2 separate regions of the Homo sapiens genome follow, and region 2 is linked to region 1. Evidence: fine-mapped expression QTL. A gene starts in region 1. The other region holds a variant in brackets. All regions are shown on one strand. Distances are from middle to middle.

Region 1 (5,377 bases):
ATTCTTCTCATCAAGACACAGTGAGGGCCCTTTTTTCATCCTACCAGGAGGTTTTCCAGATTCACTGTGGGCATTATGTCCTCTAAGAAGCCTACCCTAATTCTTGTCCCTCCTTAGACACTCATCATCTGTGCTCTTCCTGCACTCTAGGAAACCCCTCATGATGGGTTGTGTTTTAAGGTGTATCCTCCCCACGGCCTGCCAGCCCCTTTGAAGAAAGGGCTGCTCTTTCTCACCTCTGTATCTCAGTGCCTGGCCCAGTGCACAGTCCCTGCAGCTCAGAAACATCTGGACCCCTGAGTGCCTTTAAGGAGGCCAGAGGGGAAAGACTGACAGATGCTGCTCCTCAGTTCCCTCCAAGCCAGTGGCACACGTAAGTGCTCGGCACAGGGTCTTTCTGAGCGCTCGAAGTTGCTAGAGACGCTAGACTTCAGGTATAGGTTTTCAACAGCTGAAACAGAGGCTGTGGCAATTTCCTAAAATTGGTTGCTTTTACTACAAATAACAGTGATTGTGCTCTGCTAATAGCTGTGCTCCACAATTCTTAAACTTAGCCTTCCACTTTTCCTTCTCTCCTTCCTTTCCTTCCTTCCTTCTTACCACTGCCTGCAATTCTCAGACAAGGGCTTTGACATGCAGAGTGGTGGGGAGAGAGGTGCTCTTTAAGGTGATGCAAACACTCTTTTCATTTCTGCTGTGGCTGGACTCATAGTTGAGTTCTCTGCTTGACATTTTGAGGGTAACAATAGCATTGGAATGGGTAAGGGCTGGGCAGTCTGAGCTGAGTCTTCTGTGCCTCAGGAGGCTCAATTTCTGGAAGGGTGGGAGCCGGAGTGGAGCAATAAGGGTGAAAACATCTTTTGGAACAGTCTGTTTTCATTGCCTCTTCTTCCAGGGTGACAGCAGGTGGCAAGGAGAGGGCCACTGATCACTGTGCCCCCACTCCAGACCCTAAGTTTTAAAGGATAAGTATTAAACTCTTCTCGTCCTCTTGGAGCAGAAGAGCCAAATCCAGCCGGCTCTGCAGCTTCTGGCAGGTTAAAAAGCATGCATTTCCACATGACTTGCTGATTTACACCACATTTTGACATGTTTTAAAAACCTCCCTGCAGTTCCTTTTGCTGGCTCCCCTGAACACTGGTGTTGTGGAGCTCTGAGCAGAGCTCCAGGTTTATTTTCTGGCGTCTGCTGTCTATGTGCCGCCTTTGTTTTGGGCTCTCCCCAGCACATTGCCCCGTTGTCCTTGAGGGAGGAAGCCAGCCAGTCTCTGGCTTCCTTTGTAACTTCCCAGTTCCTCCACTCACAGCCTCTGCTCATCTGCTCACCCACCCCAACCACTTTGTTTTAAGTGCTGCGGGATTGAATTTCTCATCTTCAAATGCAAACAACCATTTGGCTTCGTGTCCATTACACAGGCACCTCTGGGGGCACATGCAGGCACTGTGGCCCCGAAAAACTCTTCAGAGGTGAGCGGCTTTCAGGATGAGAGGGCCAACAATGGCTCATCTCCTAAAGACCTCGATAAACATAATCAGTAGCCCCAGAAAACACAACAGCTGTCCCAAGCCTATCCCCTTTGCACCTATCTCAGAAAAGGCAACATGCAGAGTGGTCAGGAGTTCAAGTCCTCAGGGCCCTACTCTGAAGCTGTGACCCTGACAGGTCACTTTAGCGCTCAGCTTCCCTTTCCTCATCTGTAAAATGGGAATAGAAACTGAATCTGCTTCATGGGGCCTTGTAAGTATTACATAAGCTGTCATATGCAAAATGTCCATCACATAGTTCACCGCCCCAGGCATCCTAGAAACTATTAAGTCACGATAAGGAGGTTGCTACTGTCCTGGGACCTGGGGAGCTCGGCTGTCCAGTCCGAAAGGGCCTTCTCGCCCTCGAGACCCCTTCAAGTCCCTTTCTCTCCGGGCCCGGGTCCCAGAGTCCCCTTGTGCTTGCTCCTGAGGGTGACCTGCCCGTGCCCCGGGGCGAGCACAGGTGCGGCCCTGGCCACAATGCGGGCGTGGCGAGCCGACACCCGGGGAGGCCAAGGGCGCCTCGAGGGAGGGAGGGAGGAGGCTGACCCGGGCGTCCCGAAGGACCCGCCCGGCCCCGGACTCCGGGCGGCAGCCGGCCTCGCGCCCCGCCCCCGCCCCGGGAGCCCCGCCCAGTCCCGTCGCGCCGCGCCGCCCCACCGCCCGGGTTGGCTGCCCTGGAGGCCACGCGCGGCGATTTGCCACGCGCCGCGTCACCGGGCCGCTCCCGGCCTGGGCTCCCGGGGGCTGGTCAGGGAGGTGGCGGCGGCTGAGCGGCGGAGCGGGGGCGGCAGGGCGCGACGCCGCCGGGCCGCCCCGCCCTGGGAGGCGCCCGGGCCCTCATCAAGTGACCAGTATCCCTTCCAGGGGAACACGGTCCTTCAGAGGAAAGCGAGCTCCAACCCGCGGCCCCGGCGCCAAGCCGCCGTCATCTTCTTCCTGTGCCAGGTGATCGTCTCCTCACCCACCCGGAAAAACATAGTCCGCCCCCACGTCCTTGTGGAATAGCGCCCGCTTCCAAGCACCGTGACTCTCTTTGCCCTACCCTTGTCTTTCCCATTCCAATTACTCTAGAACCCACCGAGAGGATAATTCAGTCCTGAAAAGAAACTGATGGGGAGAAGCGAGGAAGGGAACCCAGGAGGGAGGGGAGGCAGGGCTGCGGAGGGACACCGAGGCGGCGGAGGTAGTGCGCACGCGCAGCACAGAACGAGTTCCGGTCTGGCCGAGGCTTGTCTCCTAAAAATAGCCCCGGTGTGGGGATCCGTGCGCGGATGTCCCGGCGAGTCCCGGGCTGAAAGAGGCGGCTCCGGGCGGCGCGAAGCGCTGGTGGCGGGCCCGGGCTGCGGCGTGTGCGCGCCCGCCAGCTGCTCCGGAGATACGGTGAGGGCCGCGGGCAGCGGGGCTCAGTCCGCGACGCCGGTAGTGCTGGAGGGGGGCGGCGTCTCGCTTAGGGGACCGAGTAGGGGTTGGGGTGGAGGTGCTGGGGCGGGGGACGGCGCGGCCGAGAGGGTCGCCCGGGGGGCTCCGGGGACCCCTGGACGAGGCCGTGTCCGGCTTGGAGGGGGCCAGGGTCGCGTTCGCGCATTGGCGGGGCGGGTAGGGTGCTGGGAGGCGGGTAGGGTGCTGGGAGGCGGCGAGGGGTGGTCGGGTCGGGGTCGGCGCTGAGGAGCTAGGCGCCCGGGGAGGTGGGGGCGGGGTGCCCTGAGGGCGGGCCGGTGGGGCTGGATGGGGCTCGGCTGGGCGGGCCGAGGGGAGCTCAGTCGCGCGGGCTGGTGGCGAGCAGCCTCCCCGGGCGCGCACCCCTTGGGGCCGGGGGGCGGTGGTGGACGTCGCCTCCTTGAAAGTTGAAGGAGTTCTCGGGAGACCCCGGAGAAGGTGCGCTCTGAGGGCCCTTTCCTTCCCCTTTTCCCTCCAAGCCCGGGGGTCTCCCCGAAGGGATTAGCCCCAAGTGCGGGGGGCCTTCTGCCCTGTTGGACTTGAAGAAGTTCCCCCACTTCTGCTTTGGGAGAAGATTGGTCTAACGGGGTGGAACGCTTAGGTACGAATTCTGTGAGTGTGTAGATGTCAGTGGCGGGGTCGGTGTTTGGGGCGGACACCTGCGGTTGCGGACGCCCGATCGTGCGGGGAGACGTCGCGGGGACAGAGGGGCTGCACAGGGAACCGCTGGCTGAACCCCTGCCATCCGGCTAGATCCCAGCTCGCAGAAAATATTTTTTGTGTTAGAAACTTTGCTTTTTGGCTCGATTTCATGCCTTTGAGCTGTGAGGGTTAAAGTAAGTGAGATAGTGCAAACAAGTTTGGAAAAGGTGAGCAATCCTGAATAAGAAAACAGTTTTTCTTTAAAAGTGTAACTATAGAATTGTTGCTCACATCCGAAATAGATTCCGGAGCTGTGAAGCGAGCCTCCTGTTATGGTCCAGCAGGGAACCGTGTGTAGCTTGAATATAACATAGTGTTAACCTGCGTTTTAGTTTACAGTGAGATTGGGATTCCAATAAATGCCCTATTAGAAAGGCCTGCTGTGATGTGTTAACAATAGCATATGTATTTTTAAACAAACATTGTCTTAACATTTTTTCGGGTTTTTAGCACAGTATGTTTCCCATGTGTCTTGTATCATCTATTACTATATGAAGAGGAGGTTCTCTAAAGCTGTAATTAGGTGTACATTACCCAAGAGTACTTTCCCTTTAAGAATCCAGCTGTGTTGTTTTGGCAACTGCTAAGTACTCTAGTTGTCAGTTTTAGAATCTGTGTTACCTTGGCAGTTCTTGAACAGTCTGTGGAAAAGGTAAACAAAATAGTTCTTTTTTAAACATACAAAAATGACATTTCTTTTAATATGAATTTAGGAAGTGAGGATAAAAATGACTGCATTGTGCCTTTATGGCTTTTGTATGTACTGTGTGTGTGTGTGTGTGTGTGTGTGTGTGTGTGTGTATTTTTGGAGAGCTCAGTCTCCATTTCTTTTTCTGTAAATTACAACTTTTGTTTTAGGGAATCAAGAGTTTTCACTAAAGCAGATGCTGATTTAGATTAGTTTATATTAAATGTCATAAACACACACCTGTATATCATAAAACATTAAGATCAGTATTTGTTATATATGGTGACACATTGACAATAGAATCACCTTTATTTTAATTCTCAGTGAGCATTGTTGCAAAAAGTTGTGATAATGGTGTTACAATAATCAAAAGTACTCTGAAGAGCTAAAACTGGTGATTTGAATGTTTGTAGACTCTAGATTAACAGTTTTGTTGAAGAGTGTGGTTCCAGTAGCTACTTAGTGAAAACAGTGACTGTGAAGTAATGGTGACCTCTCTAAACGCAATTATTTGCTTACCTATTTCCTTTAATTCACACTATGGTTATATATAAAATTGTGGTTTGATTTCATATTAGAACAAAAGTGTTAAAATTACACTTTACTTGCCTTCAAAAGTTTTTTAAAAAATTAAATTCTGGGGGGTGTTCAGTGGAAGGAAAATAGCTTATTGACACCCAGAAATAATTGTAATGTCACCATGTTGAATTATGGTTTGAGAATAATTTCCTTCTGTATTCTTAGAGTTTGTTTTCATATGGGTATGTGTGACAAGGATTTTTTTTTGTAAATGCAGTTGGAAATAATCTCTTAAAAAGGTTGAGTTGTTTCAAATGGTGATGTTATGTTTTTCAAAGCAATTTCGTTACAATTTGCCTTTTCCATCATGCATTGTGGGTTAATATTAATTTTATTAATATTCCAGCAATAGCAGTGTCATCCATTAATTGGCTACCAAAAAGAGGAATATTGAATTATATTCTGAGGGTGGTTAAGAAATTATGGAAATGTTTATTAGAAT
Region 2 (5,377 bases), 66 kb before region 1:
CATCAAACACAAGATATAGAACATAACCATCAGCCCAGAAAGTTCCCTCATGTTCCTGGCCACCTTTTGACTTGTACCAACATAGATCAATTGTGTTTGTTCTAGAGATTCATATAAATGAAATCATACTGTATATACTTTTTTTGTGTCTGGCTTATTTCACTCAGCACAATTTTTTTTGAGGTTCATCCTTGTTGTGGGTCTAACAGAAGATGGATTGTTGACGAGGCCTGGTGGTTCATGCCTGCAATCCCAGCACTTTGGGAGGCTGAGAGGAGAGGATCACTTGAGGTCAGGAGTTCGAGACTAGCCTGGCCAACACGGTGAAACCCCGTCTCTAATGAAAATACAAAAATTAGCCAGGTGTGGTGGCATGCATCTATAGTCCCAACTACTCGAGAGGCTGAGGCAGGCGAATCGCTTGAACCCAGGAGAGGGAGGTTGCAGTGAGCCAAGATCGTGCCATTGCACTCCAGCCTGGGGGACAGAGTGAGACTCCATCTCAAAAGATAAAAAATAAGATGGTTCATTGTATTGCTGAGTGATGTTCCATTAAACGGAGATGCTGCATTTTGTTGATCCTTTCTGTTGACATGCCTTGGGATTGTTTGCAGTGTTTGACTCTTATGAGTATGGCTACTGTAAACATTCTTGTATAAGTCTGTGTGTAGACATTTGTTTTCATTTCTTTTGGGTTAATAACTAAGAGTGGAACTGACTGCTGGGTCATGGGGTAGAAGCATGTTTATTTACTGCCATAAGAAACTGCTAGACACATCTTCATCCACAATGATAAAGAGTTCCAGTGTCTCCACACACTTGTCAATGTTCATCGTATTTCACCTTAGCAATTTTAGTGGACGTGAAATGTTATCTTATTGCAATTTTAATTTGTGTTGTCCTGATGACTGGGGACATTGAACACCTTTTCAGTGCTTACTGATCATTCATTTGTCCTGTGAGATACCTACTGAATTCATTTGCCTGTTTAAAAAATTAGGCTGTTCATGTTTTTTGTTGTTGATTTGTAGACATTCTTTATATATTCTAGACCCAGAAAAGGAAGGTTTTTAAAAGTAAAACAGTAGCCACTGATCATGATATCCCGGTCCTTTAAGCTGAATACCTGCCACCCCTCCCATTCCACCTCATATATCACTTTGGGTGGTGTGCTGACTTTAGAATGCACCCACTGTCACCCAAATGGCTGAAATGCTAAATTCTGTTTAATCAAATTCAACTGACTCGTGAAGATCCATTTCTACCGAAAGCAGAAAACAAAACAAATGAACCAATAAAAGCAACGAATCTTACTGCTTCCAGGTAAACTCTCTCCCATTTGACACTTAATCTTTGTATAATTACTCTGGCCATTGAGGATTTCATTTAATTAATCACAGGGTAAACTCTTTTTCAGAGTTTCATCCTCTTGAAAGTCCTCCTGTCCCACCAAGGGATAGTCAGGAAGTTGTTTCTATTCCTCATGGGGGCAAAGTAGACATTCCTGGTTCTCTGTCTGTCCTCTAGTTTCAAGTCTGACTGTGTGGGAGGAACTTAGGTTGTTCTTCTGGTGTCTGGAGGTCGGCTCCACCCCTGGGCCATGTGCTCTGCCCACCGTGATCCTCTCTTGGCCTCCAGCTGCAGGGGTTTGTCTCCTACCAGGCACCAACCTCTTCCTCTCCCGCGACCCTTTTAGTACTACTGCTCCCCACTCCCATCCCACACAGAAAGTTCTAGATCTCACCCAAGCCACACAGAAACCCAGGGAACCTCCTCTATGGCATCTCAGATTCCCTCCATATCTAAACGTTTCACACCATCATTTCTCCTCTACTGAAGCCCCCCAGCATGGGTGTAGATCACCTTGCAAGGCAGTCTCTGCCTGGAATTCTAAACAGAAAGTGGAGCACAAGCTTTCAGATTCTTCTTTGGACCATCTGAAATGTCCATAATCTCTCCTGCACTCTAGGTATAGTGTCTTAATCTAATAATCTCATTAACTGAAAATGTCTCTCATCTCTGCCCCCCACATCCCAGCCCAAGAAGGGCTGTTCACCTTGCTGGGGGACAGGGAACTGCTCTTGGGTCATTTGTGAATCCTTCTCTACACTATGGTGTGTGGTGAAAACCCCATGCTTGTCCTCTAAGATTATTGTATTTAAAAGAAATGTATGCGAATTTAGGAAACCCTTTCCTCTCTTAATGGCCCGGCTCTTGCAGTTGAAATCTTGGCTTTCAGTCCTCCTGTTCTTGAGTTTATTTAAGTATCTGAAGCTCAGCATCCTGTCTTCATTCCCACTTTCCATTTCTCCTTCATTCCAGCTACTGCTCATGAAGATAATGGAAACTGTGGCTAAGTAGGTGGAAATCACAAATAAGGAGTGAAAAAAGAAAGCACATTAATATAATTCAAGGTATTAATCTGAACACATTTACTTTGATGTTAACTATGAATGACTTATTCCCTCCTCCAAAAATAAAAAAAAAAGAAGAAGAAAGAAATCGTGTATTCCTGCACTCAGCTCCAACTTGGCTCCTACTTGGCCCTCCTACATTTGCTGAGCCTCTGGACTTTCCAAGCCTTAGGCTCTCAGATCCCTTTTGTGGCGCCTGCTTGACTGTCAACTCTATGTCTGGCATTGCCTGGTGTCATGAAAAGATTTTCTCTGGTATCCAGCTCCACAGGACCT[A/G]TCACTCCTGGGCACGGAAGGGGCAGGATACAAACCCTGCGGGCAGGAACTCCTAGGAAATCCTCCAGATCGATTTCTTGATAATTCAGATGAGCCTAACTAAGTTTGGATTTTGAGCTTGGTGACAGCCACCTCCAATATGGCCATCTGTAGTCCCACCTCCTAGTATCAATGCTTTGTGTGGTCCCCTTCTACATCGGATCAGGGTTGGCCCACGTGACCGATGGAGTAAGGTCGAGTGATGGTACGGCTATAAAAGACATTGTGGCTTCTGCCCTTGTCGCTCTCAAATCACTAGCACTGGAGAAGCTGGCTGCCATGTTGTGAGGACACTCAGGCAGCCCCATGGAGAGGTCTATGCAGCAAGGAGCTGAGGCCTCCTGCCACAAGCCATGTGGGTGAACCATCTTGGAGCAAACCCAGACTTACAGTCGCAGGCTAATGTGGCAGACAGGACTCATCCATCTAGCCCCATCAGCTCAGAGCTGAGCAAGTAGAGGCCTAGAGAGGTCAAATGATCCATCACCACCACACATCTGGTCAATGTCCAAGCCACACCTTGCCTTCCAGTCCCATTTTAGATAAACTGATTGATCTTCAGCTCAGAGTAGCTTCTTGCGATGGGTGTGGTGGCTCACGCCTATAATCCCAGCATATTGGGAGGCCTAGGCAGGCGGATAACTTGAGGTCAGGAGTTTGAGACCAGCCTAGCCAACATGGTGAAACCCCATATCTACTAAAAATAGAAAAATTAACTGGGTGTGGTGGCACATGCCTGTGGTCCCAGCTACTCAGGAGGCAGAGGCACAAGAATTGCTTGAACCTGGGAAGCAGAGGTTGCAGTGAGCCAAGATCGCACCACTGCACTCCAGCCTGGGCAACGGAGTGAGGATCTGTTGAGACAGATCAAAAAAAAAAAAAAAAAAAAAAAAAGGGAGGGTGGCTTCTTGGATTTCACCATTCGTGTTTCCTGTGCGCTGGCTTCTCCATCCTGTGGCGCCTGGTCATTAGCAGAGTCTAGGACATCCTATTGCAGTAGGCAGGGAGCTGGAGTGGGGTAGGGCAGGCTGATGGGCATCCTGGGCTGAGATAATGTGTCTAAAGACACAGCAGTGTGAACATGGGTGGCATTTTTGGAGAGGGGTGAGTTGTCTACTGCAAAGGAAGGCAGGGGCCATACAGAAGAGCACCTTCACTATGGCATAAAGTGACACTTCCTGGAGCTCCTGAGACAGCCAAGGGCAGGTGTCAAAGTTCCTGCCTCGAGTTCAAAACAGGACAGTGTCTGTCCTCGAAGGTGGAGGGCCCCAAACAACAAACACCCATGGGAGGGTGTGTGTTATTAGCCTGAGTATTGTGCAAGGTAACATGCCGTCAAAGCAGGCAGGGTTTGGTCAGTCCCATTCATGCTTGATCAGGGGAGATGTTTCCAGAAAATATAAAGCTGGAGGGTGCAGAAGAGAGTCCCTGCAATAGCAGATCTGGGGCTAGCCCTGATGACCAAGAATGCTGACCTTTTCGGCAAACTTTCTCAGCAGGCTCTCAACAACCTCTGCACCTGAGCTTCCCAAAACAGGCTGAAGCAGCAAAGGCAGATGGAATGTATTGATTCCTTTGGTTTTGTTTCATCTTGTTTTCATTCACTGCAGTAATCTTCTTCCCAGGAAAGCAGAGGATTTCCTGGAATAAGGATCCTAGCCCTTCTCTATAACCTGCATATGGGTATCACTTTTCAAGGCCAATTTACAGACATATGTTTCTTGCCAGTAAGTTCAAAGATGTAACCACATCAAGTGCAGAAAGCCTGGTTCTTAAAGAGAAGGATAAAGCCGAGTTGGAAGACGGTGGGTTTTCTAGCCCCAATCTCCACCTTGTTCCAAAACCTATGGTAACCCCAAGAGGTGAGGAAGGTTGAAATTTTTCAGGCTTATACAGGCAAATAACTTACTTAATTTTTTTGATTGAATTTAGTGCAGCTCCTAACCCCTTATTTACATTCAGTCACTATCAAAATTTTCTCACTGTCCTTTAAGTAAAAATGGAATCAGTTATGGATTTTTTTTATTCCTCTTTCCTCTCTTTCTCACCAGGTGTTAAACTTGAGTGAGGTGTATTCCGGGTTGGGAGGCACCGTGTGTCTGCAACCCAGACAGTCAATGTTCATTGGCCCCAGGACATTGACACCTACCCAGCTACCCCCTGTATCTGTGGCCTCTCCACTCTCCAGTTGCCAGACCTAAGCAGGTGCCCCGTGTTCTCTTTATCCCACTACCAAGGCTCTGCAGCCTGCTCTCAGGCACACCTGTCCTCTCTACATGGCATGGAAACGTTGGCTGCGCCACCCTGGGAAACTGGGGGCTCTGGGAAACCACGTGTGGCCCATCCGCTGGGGCCCCTCCATGCTTCTGGTGCCACGGCACACGTGGGCTTCTCAAGAGACTTGCTGCCCCTTTGTCCCTCCCCTTCACCTTCAATTTACTTGAAGAAACCAAAGCCTGGGCTTTGTAAAGAGTATTGTCACTGCCATGTGTTTAAAGAAATCCATTCGGAAATTCAGATGGCTTTCCCTCCCTTTCTTTGGGTAGAGGCTGCCGGCCAACAAGGAAAATAAGATACAGAAACCTTGAGAATGGGCTTCAAGTAGAGGGAAATGCCGTTTGCAACAAGTTCTTAGTAGCAAGCAACAG

The links. PIP is the estimated chance that this variant, and not a neighbour inherited with it, causes the effect. A credible set is the group of variants that fine-mapping cannot tell apart.
Region 2: its variant is the best candidate, but not a certain one, in a credible set for the expression of MEF2A in testis (GTEx, PIP 0.60).

What each region holds. Positions count from the first base shown.
Region 1 is chr15:99,563,196-99,568,572 of GRCh38, forward strand. It overlaps MEF2A (myocyte enhancer factor 2A), which reads left to right and starts at 2,789. Exons shown (of 12, transcript NM_001319206.4): 1 at 2,789-2,909. RefSeq lists silencers at 1,960-2,399, 3,240-3,289 and enhancers at 2,111-3,086, 3,087-4,060.
Region 2 is chr15:99,496,768-99,502,144 of GRCh38, forward strand. LOC105371019 (a long non-coding RNA gene) reads right to left here. Exons shown (of 3, transcript XR_001751710.2): 3 at 730-2,353. Among named protein-coding and RNA genes, the nearest start is that of LINC03080, 64 kb to the left of the region's middle. RefSeq lists an enhancer at 5,220-5,377. The variant A/G (reference allele first, on the strand shown) is at 2,691.